2 separate regions of the Homo sapiens genome follow, and region 1 is linked to region 2. The links come from fine-mapping of genetic effects on gene expression. A gene starts in region 2. The other region holds a variant in brackets. All regions are shown on one strand. Distances are between the middles of the regions. Region 1 overlaps BFSP1 (beaded filament structural protein 1). Region 2 holds the start of BFSP1 (beaded filament structural protein 1).

What was found. PIP is the estimated chance that this variant, and not a neighbour inherited with it, causes the effect.
Region 1: its variant is fine-mapped to the expression of BFSP1 in whole blood (TOPMed, PIP above 0.99).

Annotation. Positions count from the first base shown.
Region 1 is chr20:17,501,769-17,512,328 of GRCh38, forward strand. It overlaps BFSP1 (beaded filament structural protein 1), which reads right to left. Exons shown (of 8, transcript NM_001195.5): 4 at 10,208-10,300; 5 at 7,121-7,228. Among named protein-coding and RNA genes, the nearest start is that of BFSP1, 24 kb to the right of the region's middle. RefSeq lists an enhancer at 2,744-3,267. The variant A/T (reference allele first, on the strand shown) is at 3,879.
Region 2 is chr20:17,525,612-17,536,171 of GRCh38, forward strand. BFSP1 (beaded filament structural protein 1) reads right to left here and starts at 5,768. Exons shown (of 8, transcript NM_001195.5): 1 at 5,342-5,768. The coding sequence starts at 5,718. RefSeq lists enhancers at 5,028-5,568, 5,569-6,108, 7,922-7,981 and silencers at 5,263-5,312, 5,333-5,662, 5,783-5,832.

The sequences.
Region 1 (10,560 bases), 24 kb before region 2:
AGATGACCCCACTCTCCTGTGCAGAGTTATAGGACCAGGGGTGGGCCTGACCTAGGCTGGCCTGTCACATGCCTTCTCTCCTGGGAATCTGGAAAGGGGTCTCAGAAATCGCAGAGTTGGTGGGAGGTTCTAGACAACAGGGACACATGAACGGGTCTGAGGCTGCCGCTCTGGAGTGGCGAGCTTTCATGTGCATGGCAAAGTTGAGAAAGGTAATTATTTGGAGAGGAAAAGAAATGAAGCCGAAAGGCAAAGACAAACAGAAATTAGGGAGCCATGGCAAGAGAAGGAAGAGATGGAAAAGGAGACGGAGAGCGGCTGCCTCAGCTCCCAGTTCCTGGTTCCTGATTCCTGATGCACACCTGCTCTCAGATTTCATGCCCTGCCTTTTATACCCTGCTCCTTTGGAAAAAAAAAAAAATAGTACCTTTCCGGTGGAGAAAACTGGCAGACAGCACCTTAACCAAGTGATCAGAGTTATTGTCACCTGTATGAGGACACAGCCACATAACGAAATACTCAGGACACAGCGTCACTCCATGGGGGTCTTGCCAAGAATGCAGAACCTCCATCTAATCCTGAGAAAACATCAGGGAAACCCAAAAGGAGAGACATGCCACAAAGCCACTGGTCTGGGTTCTTCCAAAGCATCACGGTCATGGAAGACAGAGAAAGACTGGGGACCATCCCAGTATGGGGGAGACAATCAAGACATGACACCTAAATGTGAGTAGGATCTCGACCAGGAAAAAACACGCGTGGAGCAACTGGTGAGATTTTAGTGCAGTCTATTAATGCGACAGGATCACTGTTAATTTCCAGGTTTTTATCATCGGCCCGTGGTTTTGTGGAAGTTGGGTGAGGGGTATATATTGGAAGCTACTGTGCTGTTTTTGCAACTTTTCAAAAATCTAAAATTACTTCTGAATAAAACAAGAGTCCCCTTCCTGTTTCAGCTAGTGTGATCCAGTTTCTGTTTCTCCCAAGAAATCTGGATTCAAACAGTCGCCTGTAATAGCAAATACAAGTCAGACACACTAACGCCTGGTGCAGCCACATCTCACCCACACCAGAGTGTTCAGACACTCCAGGAAACACTTTCAAGGAATATGGGGATTGAAAAGACCCCTTTGAGCCCCAAATCTCAAAGAAGTGTTGGAATTACATGGTGAGGGAAGTGTGTGGGGCTGTAGAGAACATAGAGGGGCCATGTGTTGAGGGATGGGGCGGGAGGGCTCATGAGACAGACTATTCTCACTTTTAATTTTTGAGACAGGCAGGGTCTCACTCTATTGCCCAGGCTGGAGTGCAGTGCTGCCATCAGGACTCCCTGAAGCCTCCACATCCTGGGCTCAAGTGGTCCCCACACCTTTGTCTCCTCAGTAGCTGAGACCACAGGTGAATGCCACCATGCCCAGCCAATTAAAAAAAAATTTTTTTTTGTAGAGACAAGGTCTAATTATGTTGCCTAGGCTGGTCTTGAACTTCTGGGCTGAAGTGATCCTCCCACCTTGGCCTCCCAAAGTACTAGGATTACAGGCGTGAGCCATAGCACCTATAATCTCTCACTTTTCTATGTTTGAAATCTTCCATAATAAAGAGTAAAAGAAAAAATTACATATGAAGAGAATGTACCCCAGATCACTGACCCAAGAGCTCTGGGGTGGCCGTTCCTTTTGGGTGTGGGTTCCCCAGCCCAGAGCGGGGGTAGTGGCTCATGCTGATAAGTCCTAAGCTGGGTCAACTCATCAACCTCACAACAACCTTATCAGGGAAGGGCTGTCATTATTTCCACTTTACAGATGAGGAAACTGGGGCACACTGGCAAAGTGGCTTGCCCATAAATACCACAGCAGGATTCGAATCTACCTGAACAAGGTCTGAAACACCTCCCAGAACCAGGCCACCCTTGCCCTGCACCTCAGCCTCCTCCCTGCTGCAGGCAACAATATGCAAGCACACACGTGCGTGCACACACACACACTCTGTCTCCAGGGCCCCTGCAAACTCCCCATTCCCACACAGCAACAGGCCAACACCAGCCTGTTCTCTCTGAAGACATGGGAAAGTCAGTGTGAGCCATGCAGAGACCTCTCCTTGCAGGTTTTCACTTAGCAAAGTTTTAAACTGTAAATAGAACCACAAAGCATCACAGAATGGGAAATGAGAGCCCAGGAAAGTCACCTGTGATCTTTCTACCCTACAAGTGGAGTGCAATCTTTTTATGTCTCAGGAAGTGGTGATTGTTGTTTTTGTGGTAGTGGTAGGGGGTGGAGGGATGGGGTGTTTTCTTGGGTGTGCATTTGTGTTTGTTTGAAGAAGGCTGCATGTTTTAAAGGCTGGAGATCCTCTGCTGGAACACTGCGGGAGGAGCTCCTGTCCTGGGCGCCCCCACAGCCCCCATCCCCCACATGACCATGAGGCCCAGAGCCCTCCAACTCCGTACTGGTCGCAGATGCTCTACGGGATTCTGCTGAGTCCAGTGAAGTGATGACTTGGTTTATAAAAGTGGACTGATGTCTATACCGATGTGGTTTTTACAGCTCCATAATTTAAACCTTTCATCAGAAGGAAGAGTGTTCAGGAAAACCAGTAAGAGCTCCTGTCTCAGGAGCTCAACAGGAATGGAGATGCCTGTGACGAGAGCCACTGTGGCACGGCGTCCACTGCCACCCAGCACCAGCCTGGCCGAGGAGAATGAGACACGGACCCTCCTCTAGAAGGCCGCAGTCCAGCAGGGGAGGCACGCCCAGGGCATCTCAGAGGAAGAAAGGGGCTTCCAGGAGGAGGCAGGACCGGTCCTGGGAACCGAGGAAGGAAAGGGACTTCCAGAAAGGAGAGAAGGAATGAGCAAAGGGGAGGTCCCAGAAACTGCAGGAGGGGTCAGGAGACGAAGAGAAGAGAGGTTGGCCCAGGGTTCCTCCAACGGTGGGGCCATGTGGCAACCTGAACTTTATCCGGAGCCAGGTGACTGCTGTTTCTGCCTGGACCGTTAGATTGCCTGGTTTATATCTGTCTCCCCACTGGGCTGTGAGCCGCTGAGGGCACGACACAGGCAGGAGCCTGACGCGAGCCCCATCTGGAGGGGTGAGCTCTCACCTCAGTCCTTAGGACCCCAGACACCTTTAGGTGTAAGGTTTTTTTTTTGTTTTTGTTTTTGTTTTTGTTTTGTCTTAAAAAAAAAAAAAAGGAAACTCATTACATACTGTCTTACACAAACTAAACCACTAGATGGTGCTAAGTGACTTTAATGAGAAATGAGACATGGGCGGTTCCCACTTTGCAATTTTAAAAAGTGACTTTCTTTACTTCCCTGTCACAGAAACTCTCAGTCCATGCAATTTAGGGAACTAGAATTACCTGTCCTTTCCTCTCCACCTGTCCGAAGTGCTTCCTCCGGGGCTCTTACGGGTATATGTGCACTTATTTGAAGGAGAGGCTTCCAGCTTCCAGCTCCAAGCCCAGGCACTATTCTCCCATCGTCCGCCCAGCGTCTCCCAGACTGAGCCCGCAGAGCCACGTGGAGGGCTTAAACAAGGCGCACCGGCCCGCCCCAGAGCTCCTGGGTCAGTGGTCTGGGGTGCCTGTGAATCTGCATTTCTGACAAGTTCCCAGGTGGTGCCCCCGCTGCTGGGACGGGGACCTCACCCTGACGACCCCTGCTGTGGAGAGTTCGGGAAGCTTCGGACGCCCTAACCATAGGCGGAACCCGCTGCCACGGCCCTGGTGCTAGCAGACGCTCTCTCTCGGCCCGCCCTCCACCGAGTTCCGGCCACAGAGCGGGCCCTGCCCGGCGGTGTGCGGCCACATCTTCCTTCAGCTCTAGCTTAGCTGCTACATTGGGAAGCCACTAAAACCTTTAAAACCAGCAAAAACCC[A/T]GCCACAAACATTTGAAATGAGGCCCAAGCCTGGGACACAGGGGGACCAGGTGGAACATTCGCCCACTCCCTGGGACCCGCCCTTACCCTGTGGTTCTCAGTGTGGCTCCTGGACCAGCCGCAGCACCATCACAGGGACACCTAGACATGCAGCATCCCGGGCCACACCCCAGACCCACTGAGTCAGGAGCTCCCGGGCGCACCCAGCCACGTCTGGGTTTTCATCAGAGCTAAGGAGGCAGAATTTTGGCCCCCGTGACCTTTTCCCCTTGGTGCTACACCCTTGAATATGTTACATGGCAAAAAGGGACTTTGCAGATATAATTAAAGTTCTTAATCAGTTACCCTTTTTTAAGGAAAGGAGTTTATTCAAGATTATCCCCTAAAAACAGAAGTCAGAGAAACGTGTAAGTCCAAGTCATTGAGATGAGACGCAGGAAGAGGGTTCAGAGTTCGCTGCCGGCTCCGAACGTGGAGGGGCCTGAAGCCAAGGAGCCTGGGCAGCCCTGACAGCCACTCCTGGCCAGCAGCCGGCAAAGAAACAGGGTCCTCACTCCTGCCAAGAACTTGAATGAGACTGGAAGCAAATTCTCCCCTAACAGCCTCTGGACAAGGGCCCAGGCTGGCCAACATCTTTCTTTCTACCTTTTGAGACCCAGAGCAGAGAAACCGATAGGACCCACCCAGACTTCCCACCTACACAACTGCGATGACACGGGTGCTGGTGGTGACTCATCAAGGCAGCAACAGAAAATGGACACAGCCGTGTTTCATCAGCTACATGCTATAGCTTGTTACTGAGTGAGTATAAGCACATCTGTCATTTTATTTAAAATGATTCAGTAATATTTTGATAACTGTTTTAATATAATTAGTTTCTTTTTTTTTTTTTTTGGAAACGGGGTCTCATTCTGTTGCCCAGGCTGGAGTGCAGTGGCTCAGTCTCAGCTCACTGCAGCCTCAACCTCTCCAGGCTCAGGCAGTCCTCCCATGTCAGCTTCCTAAGTAGCTGGAACCACAGGCACGCACCACCACGCCCAGCTAATTTTTGTATTTTTTGTAGAGGTGGGGTTTCGTCATGTGGCCCAGGCTGGTCTCAAATTCCTGGACTCGAGCAGTCCACTCACCTTGCCCTCCCAAAGTGCTGGCATTACAGGCGTGAGCCACCACACCCAGCCTGGTTTCCTTTAAATTATCTGTATTTTATTTTATGCCTTTACCATCATTTTTCTGAGAAGCGGTCTCCATCAGAATGCCACGGGTGGGAGTGGAGGAGGCAGCACAGAAGAGATGTTTGAGACCCTGCTTTAGAGACGAGGGCAGCAGGGAAAAGCCAGGAAGTCCTCCTGCAGCCACTCAGGACAGAAACAGGCGGCCAACCAGCGGTTTCATTTCATGTTCTCAGAAACCAGGTTAATCTGTTGTGAAATTTCTTATTTTGATATTCAACAAATACCTGTACATAAAGAGAGGAACATTCTTTTTGTCCTGGAACTGGAATTTGCCATCTAGGCTGGGCTCCTTCATCTTTCTCAGTATCTCTAGGGCAGTGGTTTTCAACTTTATCACCACCGCCCCAGGAAAAACCACATTTCTCATTGCGAGCCATACACATCAGATAGGTAGGTGTGTGTGTGTGTGTGTGTGTGTGTGTGTGTGTATTTCAACATATCCATATGGATATAGAGAGATAAAACAAGGGCTTCACAAAACAAATCCTCCCTTTCACTTGCTGTACACTCTGTTTTTCTTATTATATTTTAGTCTAGCATTTTGTTGACTTCCTTTTACATGCCAGTCAATTCTACTGAGTTCATTTTACATCCAAAAATGAGTTGTCACTAGCCATTTGGAAAACACTGGTCTCTAGGACCACGACTGGGCTTGTATCCACGTCCCTATTCACATACACAGCACACACACATACACATGACACACACACACCACACACACTTCACATACACATCCCACATATATCACACATACCATGTATATCACACACACACACCCCATGTACACAAACACATACAACCCTTATTCTATCCTGTCAGAGCCTCAGAAGAAACCACACAGGCCCCAGTCACCAGGATGAGGCACATGGTCCCTGAGCCAGGGTTTGTCTCACAAGAAGGAGGAGTTTTAAGTGCCTTACTTGGTTCCTCCTGCTGCGATCGTCAGTTCAGGGGACCACCACAGACCCGGGTTTGCTTTCCAGCAGCCCCTGAGAGCTGCTGCACTGTGAGTTTTGTGTGGTGCGTGCTGGGATGGGAATTAGGATGTGAACTCCAAGGTCCCAAAATGAAATCCTGAGCAGACATGGGGGCACTGGAAATCAATAAAAAGCGCTACATCTAGTTGTGGCTTCACATTTTTAGACAGAGTAACACATAACATCCAAATGGTCCAGGCTTTCTGAAGTGTCCGATTTTTACACGTTTTGCTCTCTTGTCCCCATGTGTACTTGTCAAACCAAATGTCAACTTACTTTTTGGTTTGGGAAATGTGGTTAGAGAGCCATACAAAGGTGCAGTATTTTAACCCAAGCGTCCCTGTGGAATGACCTGCTGTAGGGTAATGAGAAAGAGAGAGAACCGGAAGGAACAAAGAAGATGAGCCGGCAAGTAGCCAAGAAGGCACAGGCCACAGGACAGTTTGGGGCTTTTCTGTTTTGTTTTCAAATTAAGCTTCACCCAAAAGGGGTGGGGGTAGAAATGTGAGCTTTCCACCAACACGTTTCTAACTAGAAGCAAACACTGATACAACCACTCTTGCCGGGTTGTAATCAAATTCCGAAGGAGAACTGTTACCATGAGAAGGAAAACAGAAGCACAGATTTGAACAAGTGGAGGATAAAAATCCCTATGGTGTCCGTTTCTTCTTATTCTTACGAAGCTTGACCTGGGCAAAATGAATGCATGATGTAGACACTGGGGCAGCCTAAGCCTAAGACTCGGTGGGGAGGGCATGACTCGAAGGAGTCCCAAGGGGCACCTCTGAGGGGCCAGGAATGAGCGTGGCACCTGTGTCCCCCAGCTCAGGACTCTCCCTGTGTCCTGGAAAACTCCTCAGTCCAGGCCAGAGCAGAGCGCTTGGCCACCCACTCAGAAAACCCCGTTTCTGCCAGGAACATAGGATATGTTCAGCGTGTGACAGCTCCTCAAGCTGCATGCGTGTGCCTGCGCGTAACACCTCCATGAAACATGTGGGAAGCCCCAATGCACACGCGGCAGACTCGAGCGTACCTGTGCCTGCAGCTCCACTCTCTGCGCCTGCAGGTGGGAGAGCACCTCCCGGCCCTCCTCCAGCTGACTCCGCAGGGCGGCCACCTCCCGCTCCGTCAGGAGCTTCTCCTGCACAGAGAAGGCCAGAGTCAGACTCATGGGACATGCAGAGAGGAAAAGGGCAGAGAAGGTGCGGGGCCCTGGTATGGACGGAATATCCGTGTCCCCCTGAATTCTGTGTTGAAGCCCTAACTAACTCCCAAGATGAAGGTTTTAGGAGACCTTTGGAAGGTGTTAGGGTTAGATGAGGTCATGAGGATGGGGGGCCCCATCATGTGATTAGGGTCTTTGTAAGAACAAGAAGAGACACCAGAGCCCCCACCCCCACCCCCTGTCTGTCTGTCACGTGAGACACAGCAAGAAGGCAGCCGTCTTCAAGCCAGAAAGAGAGCCCTCACCAGACACCAATTCTGCTGGCATCTTGATCTTGGACTTCCAGCACCCAGGACAGTGAGAAGTAAATGTCTGCCTGTCGGCCCTCCCATCTGTAGTGTCCTGTTATAGTAGCCTGAGAAGACTAAGCCAGGCCCACAGCACAGCCATCAATGCCTTTTGCTTTGTCTTCAAAGTCTGAACCTCCTTGGGAGTGTGACATGCCGGGACCAAGTACCAGGAGACCAGAGCTTAGACCTGGCTGTGCCATGAACCTACTAAGAGACTCTAGAAAAGGATTTGACTCTCAAAGCCTCTGTTTTCCCTTCTGTGAAAGGGAAAACCTGGAATGCACACTCTCGAAGAAAATGAAGGCTGGTTGGAGCCGCGAGCCATACGCTGTGCTCGGATGTCAGCGCAGCACAAAGCAGGAGCCATCAGCCCCAGTGGGTGAAAGGGAAGTGACGCTCCAGGGAATGGCTAGAAGGAAATCCTCTGACCTCTCCACACTCTGCCAAGCAGGTCCCTCTCTCCTGACCTGCCTTTCCACGTCTATTCAAAAATATTCAAATTGTTTCACAAAGGCCTGACTGCTCAAGAGCCATGCATTCTGACACAGAGCACATTGACTCGAAGCCATGCAAAATCAAACACCAAGTCTACAATGAGGGTTTCTGTGTCCAGAGGCTGCATGGAAGACAGCCTCTGCTTCAAACACCTTACAAAGTGGCTGCAGCAATGACATAGACATACAGGAAAGTGACCGTCTAACTTGATTGTAGAATTGCTAAGCTAAGACTCATAAAGATGTGACACTTTCTCAATCGGTGCTTCTCTATCCTGAGCATGCACACGAGTCCCTGCGGATCTGGCTAAGATGCAGATTCTGCCTCAGTGGGTCTGAGGCTGGACTGGACACTCTGCACGTCTCACAAGCCCAGACGATGCTGATCGATGACATCAAAGTCAGTTTAGTGTCTGTATACTTATGACTTAGAAGGGTCTTATTACATGGGAATAGATGATACAATTCAAAAGGTATGCTCGGATGTAAAACACCTTTGAGTTAGAGTTGGGTTTGAAAAATAAAAGTAACATCTCTGGAAAGGAATCTCTGGGAAAGAAAATTAAGGCTTCAGGAAAAGTTTTTTTAGGCCTTTGTAGCAACATCAGTTACATCCACTAAGGAGAACAGGATCCTGAAATGGTAACTGGTGGGCAATTCAGACAAGACTATCCTCATGAATGCCAAAAAAAGTAACTTTCCTGTCGCTTAGATGATACTTTGCAGGGTTCAAAAGTGTCTTCTAAAGCAAATTTGGGGATTTCTTTAGCTTTGTATAAAATAATTAAGACGAAAAAGTTCAGGCAGCCGGTGACCCCAGCCCATGGGTTCTGCAGCAGTTTGTCTGCATGCTGGTCCTGGGCAGGCCCCACCTCCTGGGAAGCCCATTCATTGACTCGGAGCATGGCCTGAGCACACATCTAGGCAATTTCAAGTGTCACCAGGGTTGAGAGCCACCATCCTAGGTCATCCTTGCAAAAAGACCCAGAACCTTATCTCTTGACCAATCCACCAAACCCTGTAGTAGCCTACCACAACCTCTGAAGAAGGGACACTGTAACATTTTTATTTAATTTGCATCATTTCCAGTGTTTGTGGGGTTTTTTTGCTTCTTGTTTGTTTGTTTGTTTAGAGATGGGGTCTTGCTATGTTGTTCAGGCTGGTATTGAACTCCTAGCCTCAAATGATCCTCCCACCTCAGCCTCCTGAGTAGTTGGGATTACAAGCATGAGCCACCTCACTCAGCACCAGTCTATATATATATATATCATGCTATGCATCACAAAATTCCATAAACCATATTAGGAAAAGCGTTACTATCCCGTTGAGCAGCTAGAGAGTCAAATGAAGAAGGAATTTGGAACATAATATCAGAAGTAATTTTTCATATCCAAATCTTAATTTTTACAAATTGGCTTCAACAATCTCTATCCTTTCCCACTAGTTTCAATGCCACAGGCTCACATAATCATTAGCAGAGCTCCGTCTTGGAAATATATTCACTAATTATCTGAGATTATCTGTATTTGAAATTCATTATCAGATTGATAGGGAGAATAAGGAAACAAACCAATTTTTTAAATGGGCAAGAGGCTTGAGCAGATACTTCCACAAAGAAGCTATCCGGATGGCAGATGAGTGCACAAAAGGATGCTCGGCTTCCTTAGTCATTAGGGGATGCAAATTAAAACCACCACCATTAGAAGAGCAAAGACACACTACAAAGCTGACATACCAAGTGCTGGCAAGGACAGGAAGCCACAGAAACCCTCACGCATTGTGGGTGGAGATGCAACAATGGCACATCGCTTTGGAAAGCAGCTTGGTCATTTCTTATAAAGTATGCAAGGAAGAACAGCTCATAATTCTCAAGAGAAAATACCGAAGAAAATGGTCAAGGATGCGGTTTACATCCTCACATGTCTAAATATTGGCATTTACAGTACAAGTAAAATATCAGAAGAAGAAACTTCAGATGAGAATACAAGGCAGGAGTGGGGAGTGGACCCTGGTGGCCGCCCTCACAGTCCAACCTGTGAGCCCTTCCCTGGGAGTCTCCAGGTACAGCTTCCCTCCAGGGCTGGTTTGCCTTTTCCTGCTTCAATTCTTACCTCCCTCATCCCACTCGTCACAATGGATGCTGGAGGAGTGGTGTGGATGATCTGCTGCAGGATGCTGATATAGGTCTGAACTTCCAGAAGATTCTGTTGGGGGAGGGAAAACATTCTCATTATAAGTTGAGCTGCGCTGGTTTTTCCTTCTAGTACTAGATGAGAACAGGAATGGACACTTCCGCACGCTCCCTCATCACAGACAGGACAGACCATGACCAGGTTCAGGAGGAAGAAGAGACTGATGCATTTGCTGCCATGGGTGGGCCTGCCCACATGTGCACCATGCTCATTCCTGGCACCTCAGTCTCCTTTAATCTTCACAAGAACAACGGGGCCGATGAATAAACTAA
Region 2 (10,560 bases):
TTTCTGCTCGGCTGGGACAACTGAGGCACGTCCCTCTGGGGGAATTTTAACCCTAAAGAGAGAAGATTCCTTCCTAAATGACCCCTCCCCTTGTTCCCTATAAGGTGACCCCCAAATGCCCATTCTTGCTGTCTTCAGGAGTTAGAGCCCTTGATGCTTGGCAAGCACAGGACTGCCTAGAAGGGAGACTACATTTTCCAGCATTCCTTGCAGCCAGGTGTGGCCATGTGACTAAGTCCTGACCAATGGGATGGAAGCATAAGTCTGCATGGCAGCTTCCAGATACCTTTAGTTAAGTAATGGTGTATGTGTGCCCTTTGCTTCTCATTTTCCATCCCTCCCTCCATCCTGCAGCCAGAAACATGAATGCTGCCTTCCTGAAGGCCACACAGAACCTTCTGTGTCCCAAATACTGTACAGTATCATACTAAACTGCTTAACCAGACCTTACACAAGTGAGAAACATTTTGGATAAGCCAATGACATTTTGGGTAAGCCAGTATCACTTTTTCTGTTTTTTTCTGTATGGCGGGGGGGGGGGGGGGGGGGCTGGTAAAATATGCATAACATAAAATTTACCAACTTAACCATTTTAAGTATATAGTTTGTGATAGTAAATATATTCATAATGTTGTGAAATCACCACCAACATCCATCTCTGTAACTCCTCATCTTGCAAAGCAGAAACTCCGTACCCATTAAATACTAACTCCCCATTCTCCCCATCCCCAGCCCTGACAACCACCATTGTACTTTCTGTCTCTATGAATTTGACACGCCCAACTACCTTATGTAAGTGGAATCATACAATATTTTTCTTTCTGTGACTGGCTTGTTTCACTTAGCATAATGTCTTCAAGTTTCAACCATATTGTAGCATATGTCAGAATTACCTTCCTTTTTAAGGGTGTATAATATTCTATGTATCGACCACATTTTGTTTACGTATTCCTTTGTCAGTGGACACTTGGGTTGCTTCTACATTTTAGCTATTGTGAACAGTGCTGTTATGAACACGTATATGCAAGTAGCTATTCAAAACCCTCTTTCAATTCTTTTGGGTATATGCACAGAAATGGAAATGTTGCATCATATGGTAACTCTATTTTTTAATTTTTTGAGGAACTGCCATACTGTTTTCCACAATGGCTGTACCATTTTACAGTCCCATCAACAGTCCATAATTTCTCCACATCCTAACAAACACTTATTTTCTGTTGTTTTTTGTTTTGTTTTGTTTTTTATAGTTGCCATCCTAATTGGTCTGAAGTGGGTCAATGTCAGTTTGGAGTTTCTGTCCTTTATAGTTGAAAGCAATCCTAATTAACACTGAGCCCAATCCACAAAGCATAGTTTTCTGTGCCCTTGCATGCCCATGCCATGGGTTCAAGTCAAGTATTCTGCAACCATGAAAGGTGCTAGAAAACCACACCACCATGTTCTCAGAAGGAAAAGTCATGAACTGAAGGAAGAACAATTATGAATATGTGCAATGTGCACGCATTCCCAGATCTAAAACCATCTGCGAAGCTGAGTTCTATCTAGGAAACTAAACATCTCTGCATAAGTTTTACATTTCACATCAGGATGTTACATTTAGTAGTTTATTTTGTGTGTTGCAATAACAGAGCCAGAAATTAGTTTTTAAATGTATAATTAGCTTTGAGAATAAAACTTAATAAAATCTAATTTTCTTATTGCTCTTTCCTGCTGGAAATATCTAAGAGTTTCCATAGCTTAAGAACATGTTTGAGGATCAACACATTAACCTGATATTGTGAGTAATTTTCATGCTGTAAAGACAAGTCTAGATATTATATTAAAGAGAAGTGATTTCCGGGCGCGGTGGCTCACGCCTGTAATCCCAGCACTTTAGGAGGCCGAGGCGGGCAGATCACGAGGTCAGGAGATCGAGACCATCCTGGCTAACACGGTGAAACCCTGTCTCTACTAAAAATACAAAAAAATTAGCAGGGTGTGGTAGTGGGCGCCTGTAGTCCCAGCTACTTAGGAGGCTGAGGCAGGAGAATAGCGTGAACCCAGGAGGCAGAGCTTGCAGTGAGCCGAGATCACGCCACTGCACTCCAGGCTGGGTGACAGAGCGAGACTCTGTATCAAAAAAAATAATAAAATAAAATAAGAGAGAGAGAGAGAGTGATTTCACTACAAAGAATTCATGATGTGTATATTCATATAAGTATATTCATAAAGTGAAAAAACTGGCTTCAATTAACTGTTTTACATAAATTATTTTTAGTTTTCAACAATTTGAATAATTGACTCTGTTGTTGTATTTTGATAGTTTTGTTTTTATTTCATTCTTGTTTTATTCAGTGTTTTGTTTAGTCTTTGACCTGTTAAAGACCTGATTTTGAAATTATTCAACTGCCAGGTAGAGACTATGCCTAGCACTGGCATGGAACCAAGCCTGCACATACTAACCCATTGCTGCATTATTTTCCCCTGGCTTTAGGTAGCCATCAACTCACCTCTGGAATGTAAACTCCAGCCTGGCATGTATGTGTATGTGTGTGTGCCTATGGATGTGGATGAGCATTTCTATAATGATTTTCAGTTCCCACTACCACAATCCAAATGTCAAAACTTCTCCAAGGGGGCAAAGGGAGGGAATAAATTAATATGAATTTTAAATAAATCACAGAGCCTGATGGAACTGCTTCATGATGGGCATATAACTCAGAACCAAGTGCAATCAGTAAAGACCAGGAAAACCCAACATGGCCTTTCCTTCAACTAGGACTCATGGATGTCATGCTTACCAGCCAAAGTACAGTAGACTATGGTCTAATGCCAACACAAAGGCCATCCAGGGAATCTTGATGGTCCATCAAGCTGCCCCGGATGTCTGAGCCACAGGGCACTTTCCCCCTTTGCTTTGGAGAACATGAGCTTCATCTGAATGAGGTCCTATTTCTGGGCCTTAGGCTGCAGGAGTCCAAGAACGGATTATCTCAAGATACAGTGTTCCCGAAAGAGCATAGGCCCAGGGTGAGAAAACCCAGGTTCAAGTTCTGCCACCCACAGGCCCTCTCCCAGGCTCAGTTTCCCCATGAAGTTCTGTAACAAGTGGATTTTCAGGTCCCTTCTACCAGCTCCAAGTCTGTTTCTACAGATTAAACCCCAAGACAAAAGAGCTGACAGGAATCGAATCAATAAATGTGATTTGATAAATGTGTTCAGAACACAACAATGAATAACCTGCCCAAGATTCAGATTGAGAAACTGGAACTCAAACATAGAGCAGGTTTACAGAAATCCTCTGACTACCCTATGCCAAGGGTTCCCAAATCTGGCTGGAATGACCAGTGGCACTCATTAAAAATGTTTAAGCTTCTGGGCCCCTCTTGAGGTCCAGGGTAGAGCCTAGACATCTGTATTTTAAAATTCATTTATGTAATTTTAAATGGATGAATATCTTACATGGTTAAATAAGTGTGTGTGTGTGTGTGTGTGTGTGTGAGACAGAGTCTCACTCTGTCACCCAGGCTGGAGTGCAGTGGCGCAATCTCAGCTCACTGCAGCCTCCGCCTCCCAGATTCAAGTGATTCTCCTGCCTCAGCCTCCCGGGTAGCTGGAACTACAGGCGTGTGCCACTACACCCAGCTAATTTTTGTATTTTTTAAAGTAGACACAGGGTTTCACAATGTTGGCCAGGCTGGTCTGGAACTCCTGACCTCAAGTGTTCTGCCTGCCTTGGCCTCCCAAAGTGCTGGGATTACAGGCGTGAGCCACTGCACCCAGCCCATAGTTAAATAATTTTTTTAAAGATATAAAAAGATGTTCTGTTAAAAGTCTCCTTCCCACCTCTGTCTCCCAATTGCTCAGTTCCTACTCACTTATCTCCCTCAGGTAGCCAGTGTCATTGGGGCATGTGCCTGTGTGTGTGTCTGTGTGTGTGTGTCTTTGTGTGTGTCCTGAAATTCTTTTTATGCAAGCAAAAAAAAAACTCTACTCTCCTCCCCTTTTAAAAGACTACATGACAATAACATACTTTTTTCCACTGCATAGTATTCCATTACATGGAGGAAGCACCTGTCTCCTTTTAATGGGCATTTATTTGGTTCCAGGCTTATTGCAGATCCTGCTGCAGTGAGTATCTTTGCAGGCATGCCATTGCACACCTGCTGGAGTGTACCTGTTGCAGTGAGTATCTTTGCAGCCATGCCATTGCACACCTGCTGGAGTGTACCTGCTGCAGTATTGGTGGAGGCATGCCATTGCACACCTGCTGGAGTGCATCCTATAATACATTCCTCAAAGTAGCCTTCTGAGTCAAAGAGCACACACATTTATAACTTGAAAAAATGTTGACAAATTGCATCTTTTTTTTAACAGCTCCTATGTGATTTTAACACATTACTCAATCTGTGGGAGGGGAGACCATGCCCTGGACCAGTGCTGCTTAGTCAACATTTAACTTTTTAAACTGAAAATCACCTGGGGAGCTTGTTAAAATGCAGATTCTGATTCTGGAGTTCTAGGGTGGGCCCAAGAATCTGTATTTCTAGCAAACTCCCGGGTGATGCCAATACTGCTGGTCCATGGACCGCACTTTGAGTATCAAGACACTAGAGGACACATACTGAGCATAATTCCCAGGTGTCAGCTGCTATGCCATGAAGGCAATTAGACTTAGCATGCCCAGGACCTAAATTCCAGTCCCGGGACAGCAGTTCGCCAGCTGAGGGGCCTTGCTGGCCAAATCCCTACATTTTCTGAGCCTCAGTCGCCTCATCTGTAAAACAGGTGCAGTAAAGATAAGTATGTAAGGATTAAATAACATCGGTACATCTCAAAACCAATGTGCTGAGCAAAAGAAGCCAGACAATAGAGTACATCCCGTAAGATTCTATTTTTGTGGAACTGTAGAATAGGCAAAGTCAATCTATGGTGATAGAAATCAGAATGGGTGCCTCCGGTCTGGGGCAAAGGGGACTGACTGGGAAAGGGGAGGAGGGAACTTTCAGGGGTAGTGGAAATATCTCACTTGTTTTCGTGGTAACACGGGTATATACATTTGTCAAAACTCACTGAACTATGCACTTCAAATCTGTGCATTTTATAACATGTAAGTTATACCAAAATTTAAAAATAGATGAAAAGTAAATGATACAACTTCGTGTAAACTGTGACGTGCCATCAAAACAGAAGCCAGTCTTAGCTTAAGGAAATGTGCCACCTGCGTGCAGGGATGAGGTCATCGATCGACAGGGGACCAGAGACGGCGCTCCACCCCTGCATGGTAGCAGCGTGCTCCCAGCCCCGCGCCGCCGGGACGGCCCACGCCCTGCCTCGGTTTCCCCCGATGGCCGCCGCTTACTTGCTTCGGAACTCGTCGAGCGCGCGCTGCGCCTCGGTGCCCTGGCGCTCCAGCCGGGCGCGCTCGGCCTCCAGGTCCCGGACGCGCTGGCGGTTGCTCTCGACTTGGCGGGCGAGGGCGTCCTCGGGCCCGGCCAGCTCGCCCAGGCGCTGGAAGGCATCCAGCTGCCTCCGGAGCCCGGCATGGCGCTGCTCGAGGGCGCGGGCCCGCTGGACGTGGGCGGCCACGCGCTCGCCGAGCCCCTGCAGCGCCGCCAGGCTCGTTGCCCCAGCCCAGCCCTCGTCGGCCGGGCGCTCGGGCTCGGCGGCGCGCGAAGCCTCGTCGGCGTGCTCGTACTGCTCCTTGCGGGTCTGGAAGACGTAGCTGCGCCGGTACATGGCTGCTCTGGCGCGGGCGCGCGGGCGGCGCCGAGCCGGCTCTCCAGGAGGCCCCCGGCGCAGCCCGCAGCCCGCTAAATAAACACCGGAGGCCCCCGGCGCGCTGCTGGGACGTTCCAGAGCCGATCAGCAGTTGGGCGCCACGCTGGGCCCGGGCGCGGGAGAAGAAAAGAGCAGCGGCCCGCTTTGTGCGGCGGATTAGCGGCCCATACAGCTCCGGGGTTGGAAGGTTACGCTGGGCAATGAGGTTTTTGTTCCGTGATTGTTCAGGCCTGTTGCTTTTGATTGAATGGAGGGTCAGGGGACACGGGAGCCATGACGCTCTTTTCACTGGTTCCACTGGGGACTGTGAAGGAATCCCCAAGCGAACTCTTTAAACTTGGACTAGCTCAAGAGCCCAGGGCTTGTCACTTTGTCTCCTCTTGCATTCAAACTCAATTGTAGAACTCTTTAACAATGCCATTTTTTTTTTCTGATTACTTAAGCAATTCTTTTTTTTTTCTTTTGGTCTTTTTTATTTCCAATTGCTCGGTTATGCATGCAATTCTTTTTCATAATCATAACATGACGTTTAGGACCCTTCTGTATAGCAGAGGTTCTTAACCATGGATGCAAAATAAAATGGCATGTCTCCATTAAGTAGTGAGGTGTGGCGCAAGTAATTTCTTAGTAATACCCGTGCATAAAAGCCTACAATAACTTAGGAGACATGCACGGTTATGTTTTTATAATTCACCCATGCTCTGATGGAGTTTGACATGCTTTCTTGAATGGAAAAAACAAATAGAGCCCCACCCATGGGCCTGTAATAGGTGGTTCACGCCTGTAATCCTAGCACTTTGGGAGGCCGAGGCGGGCGGATCACCTGAGTTCGAGGCCAGCCTGGCCAACATGGTGAAACTCCGTCTCTACTAAAAATACCAAAATTAGCCAGGCGTGGTGGCGTGTGCCAGTAATCCCAGCTACCTGGGAGGCTGAGGCAGGAGAATCGCTGGAACCTGGGAGGCGGAGGCTGCAGTGAGCCGAGATCGCCCCACTGCACTCCAGCCTGGGTAACAGAGTGAGACTCCGTCTCAAAAAAAAAAAAAAAAAGAAAAAGAAAAAAAGATTGCTTTTTTCTTTTTCTTTTTTTAACATAAAATGTAATACAAAAAAATTTTAATAAAAAATGAGATGGGGTCTTGCTATGTTGCCCAGGCAGGACTCAAACTCCTGGGCTCAAGTGATCCGCCATTAATTGGCCAACCCTCAATTCGAGAATAATAAAGGATTTTGTGCCATTATGTTCCATTTTAATTTTTATTATGGAACTAATAGTTGGATTTTAAGGACAAGCTTTTAAAATATATATATATAATTAATAGCTAGACTTTGACAAATTTAAAAGTAAATTTAAGAAAAGAAATTAATACCACTTGATGAGAATGTTTCTGAATGTAAATATTTTGTCATATCTCCAACTTTAAAAATAAGTATCAAAAGGGTTGTTTTCTTAAAAGGATTAGTAGTACCATATAATTACTAACTATATGGATTGTGTGTGATTATACTACAAATTAAAGTCATAGTTATCAAAGATAGAGAAAGAAAATTACACAGATCTTTGTGGAGTTTATTATTACACCAAAATATTACCTCAAGATAATAGATTCCGTCTGGAATAAAGCTCTGCAAGGCCCTAAACTGTGCTGGTGGCATGGTTATTGTTCTATTTTCTTAAACCATTTAAAATTAGATTTGGCCAGGTGCAGTGGACCACACCTCTAATCCAGAACTTTGGGAGGCCAAAGTGGGAGGATCTCTTGAGGCCAGGAGTTCAAGACGAGCCTTGGCAACATAGTGAGACCCCCATTTCTTTTATTTATAAAAATAAAAATAATAAATAAAAATACATAAAATGTAATTGTATGGTCAAATTGAGGATAACCACATGAATATTTTTGTAGGTGCACATATACCATGCTGATAGCATGGTAAATTGACTTCAGGCTTCCTCACGAGAGCAAAACCAACATATAGCAAGAGTTATAAAATCATTTGTTCCCTATGATACCATGTATCAGTCAAATATTGCTACAGAACAAAATAGAAGTATTTATCACTGCATTCCCTGGGGCTGGGAGCTCAGCTGTCTTCCAGCTGTAGGTCTCCTTTCAGCAGGGGCTGCTCTGCTCCCAATGTCCCTCAAGCTTCTAAACTAGCAATGAAAAAAGCACAAGAGCAAGCCCAGCCACACAAGCTCATCCCAGGCCTTTGTTTGCATCATGTCTGCTGACATCTCATTGGTCAAAGCAAATCACATGGCCACAAATAAAGTCAAGAGGAAGCAAGGAGGAGGCAGGGCTCAGCCTGAGGCCCTGGCAAGGGTGTGGGTGGATAATCCCATCATGCTGGAGTGGAGAATCAGGACCCACAACTCAATCGACCACACATGGCAATACCATTTGAGAAAAATATATTCTAGAAACATAACAAAAAATTCTTTCAATTTAATCCAGTGAAATAAACACTCAGAAAATATCTCCTCACAAAGCGTAGCCTCAGAGTTAAATATTGCACAAAATCAAGTCTCTGCCCTCAGGGTGCAGGAGGCGAATCCATACTGACTAATGAAAACACAAGATAATCTGGACAACTTCTAAAATAAAGATCTTAGCAAAATGCTGTGGTTGTATTGTCTAACTTCAGGTGCACTGGGAAATGCAATCCTGCTATGTGCTTAGAAGGAGTGTGCAATATTTGTCAACAGCCCTAAAGACCATATCACTGATAGGAGACCATTCAGTAGGAGTAGAGATCGTATGCATAAGGAAGAAATCATTGCTGAATGAATTTGTTAATTCAAGAGACATGTTCGTAGAGATAGATTCCACAGGACTTGATGAAAGGTCAGCTATGGAAGAGTTACTCTAAATACAGTTGAATGGCACTAGTTTGGGGGCAGGGACAGGAAATGGATGTTTTAGAATAAGAAAGATCTGAGGTTAAGTTCTGGTCCCATCACTTCAGTAAGTGATTTAACCTATCTAGTCCCAGTATGGAGACTGGTAAAATGAGAATAATCACTTATGTAAGTAGGGTAACCACACATCCCAGTTTGCCTAAGACACATTTACACCCACTATCTCAGCGTAAATATAGCAAGCACCATCTTTCACTCTCAAGGGTATCTTGGTTTGTCTGAGAAATACACGTCTTTTATCTGGCCTGCATAACCTGAATATGTAGCCTATATCTGACCATAAGGAATCATCCAGATAAATCCCAAAGAAGGAACATCCTATTAATAAAAACAGAAGGGGGATGGTATTCTATAAAAATGTTAATATCATAAAAGACAAAGAGAAGCTATGAAAATGTTCCAGATTAAAGGAGACTGAAGAGACAGGACATCTAAATGCAGTATAGGGCCGAGTGTGGTGGCTCATGCCTGTAATCCTAGCACTTTGGAGGCTGAGGTGGGTGGATCATCTGAGGTCAGGAGTTCGAGACCAGCCTGGCCAACATGGTGAAACCCCATCTCTACTAATAATACAAAAAATTAGCCGGACGTCGTGGCTTGTGCCTGTAGTCCCAGCTACTCGGGAGGCTGAGACATGAGAATTCCTTGAATCCGGAGGGGTAGAGGTTGCAGTGAGCCAATATCACGCCACTGCACTCCAACCTAGGTGACAGAGTGAGACTCCATCTCAAAAATAAAAATAAATAAATAAATGCAATATGGATCCTAGACTGGATCTTGTATTGGAGGAGAAAAACTGCTATAAAGGTTATCACTAGGTTCATTAACAAAATTAGAATATAAATAGTAGATTAGAACATAAAATTGTATCAAGATTAAATTTACTGAAGTTTATGACTATGCTACAGCTATGTAAAATAATATCATTATTCTTAGAAAATACACTCTGAGGGCTCAGGCTGGGCACGGTGGCTCACGCCTGTAATCCCAGCACTTTGGGAGACCAAGGTGGGCGGATCATGAGGTCAGGAGTTCAAGACCATCCTAGCCAACATGGTGAAACCCCATCTGTACTAAAAATACAAAAAAATTAGCAAGGCATGGTGCTACACACCTGTAGTCCCAGCTACTTGGGAGGCTGAGGCAGGAGAATCACTTGAACCCAGGAGGCAGAGGTTGCAGTGAGTCGAGATAATGCCAATGCACTCCAGCCTGGCAACAGAGCGAGACTTCATCTCAAAAAAAGGAAAATATACTCTGAACTATCTAGGAGCAAAGACCCATGATGTATGCAACTTATTCTCAAATGATTCTGAATAAAATGACATGTATAAATATAAACATAAATAAGTATGAGAGATAGTAAGGAAATTAGACAAAATATTAAGAGGTGAATCTGGGTTGTTTGTACTATTCTTGCCATTTTTCCTAGAAAGTTTGAAATTATTTTCCAAAACACCTGCAAAAAGTGTGATCACCTTTGCAGTATAGACATTTAATAAATATTACTTGCTTTATGTTATAGCTATATATATGTATAATGGCTAAGAGAGGGAGAGGTGCAGAGAGGAGAATGGCTTAGCAAACTGCAGTAACAATAGGAGAAAATGGGCTATAACCATTGAACAATTTTACTTATTTATTTTATTTATGTATTTATTTTTTTAAAAAAACAGGGTCTTGCTATGTTACCCACACTGGTCTCGAACTCCCTGCCCTCAAGCAATCCTCCTGCCTCAGCCTCCCAAAGTGCTGGGATCACAGGTAAGAGTTAGCACACCTGGCCCCACCAAACAATTTTAACCTTGTGGAATATACTATGATATAAATAAAAATGCTTATAACAAACTTGAAGGGGAAAAGAAAAGCAAAATACCAGA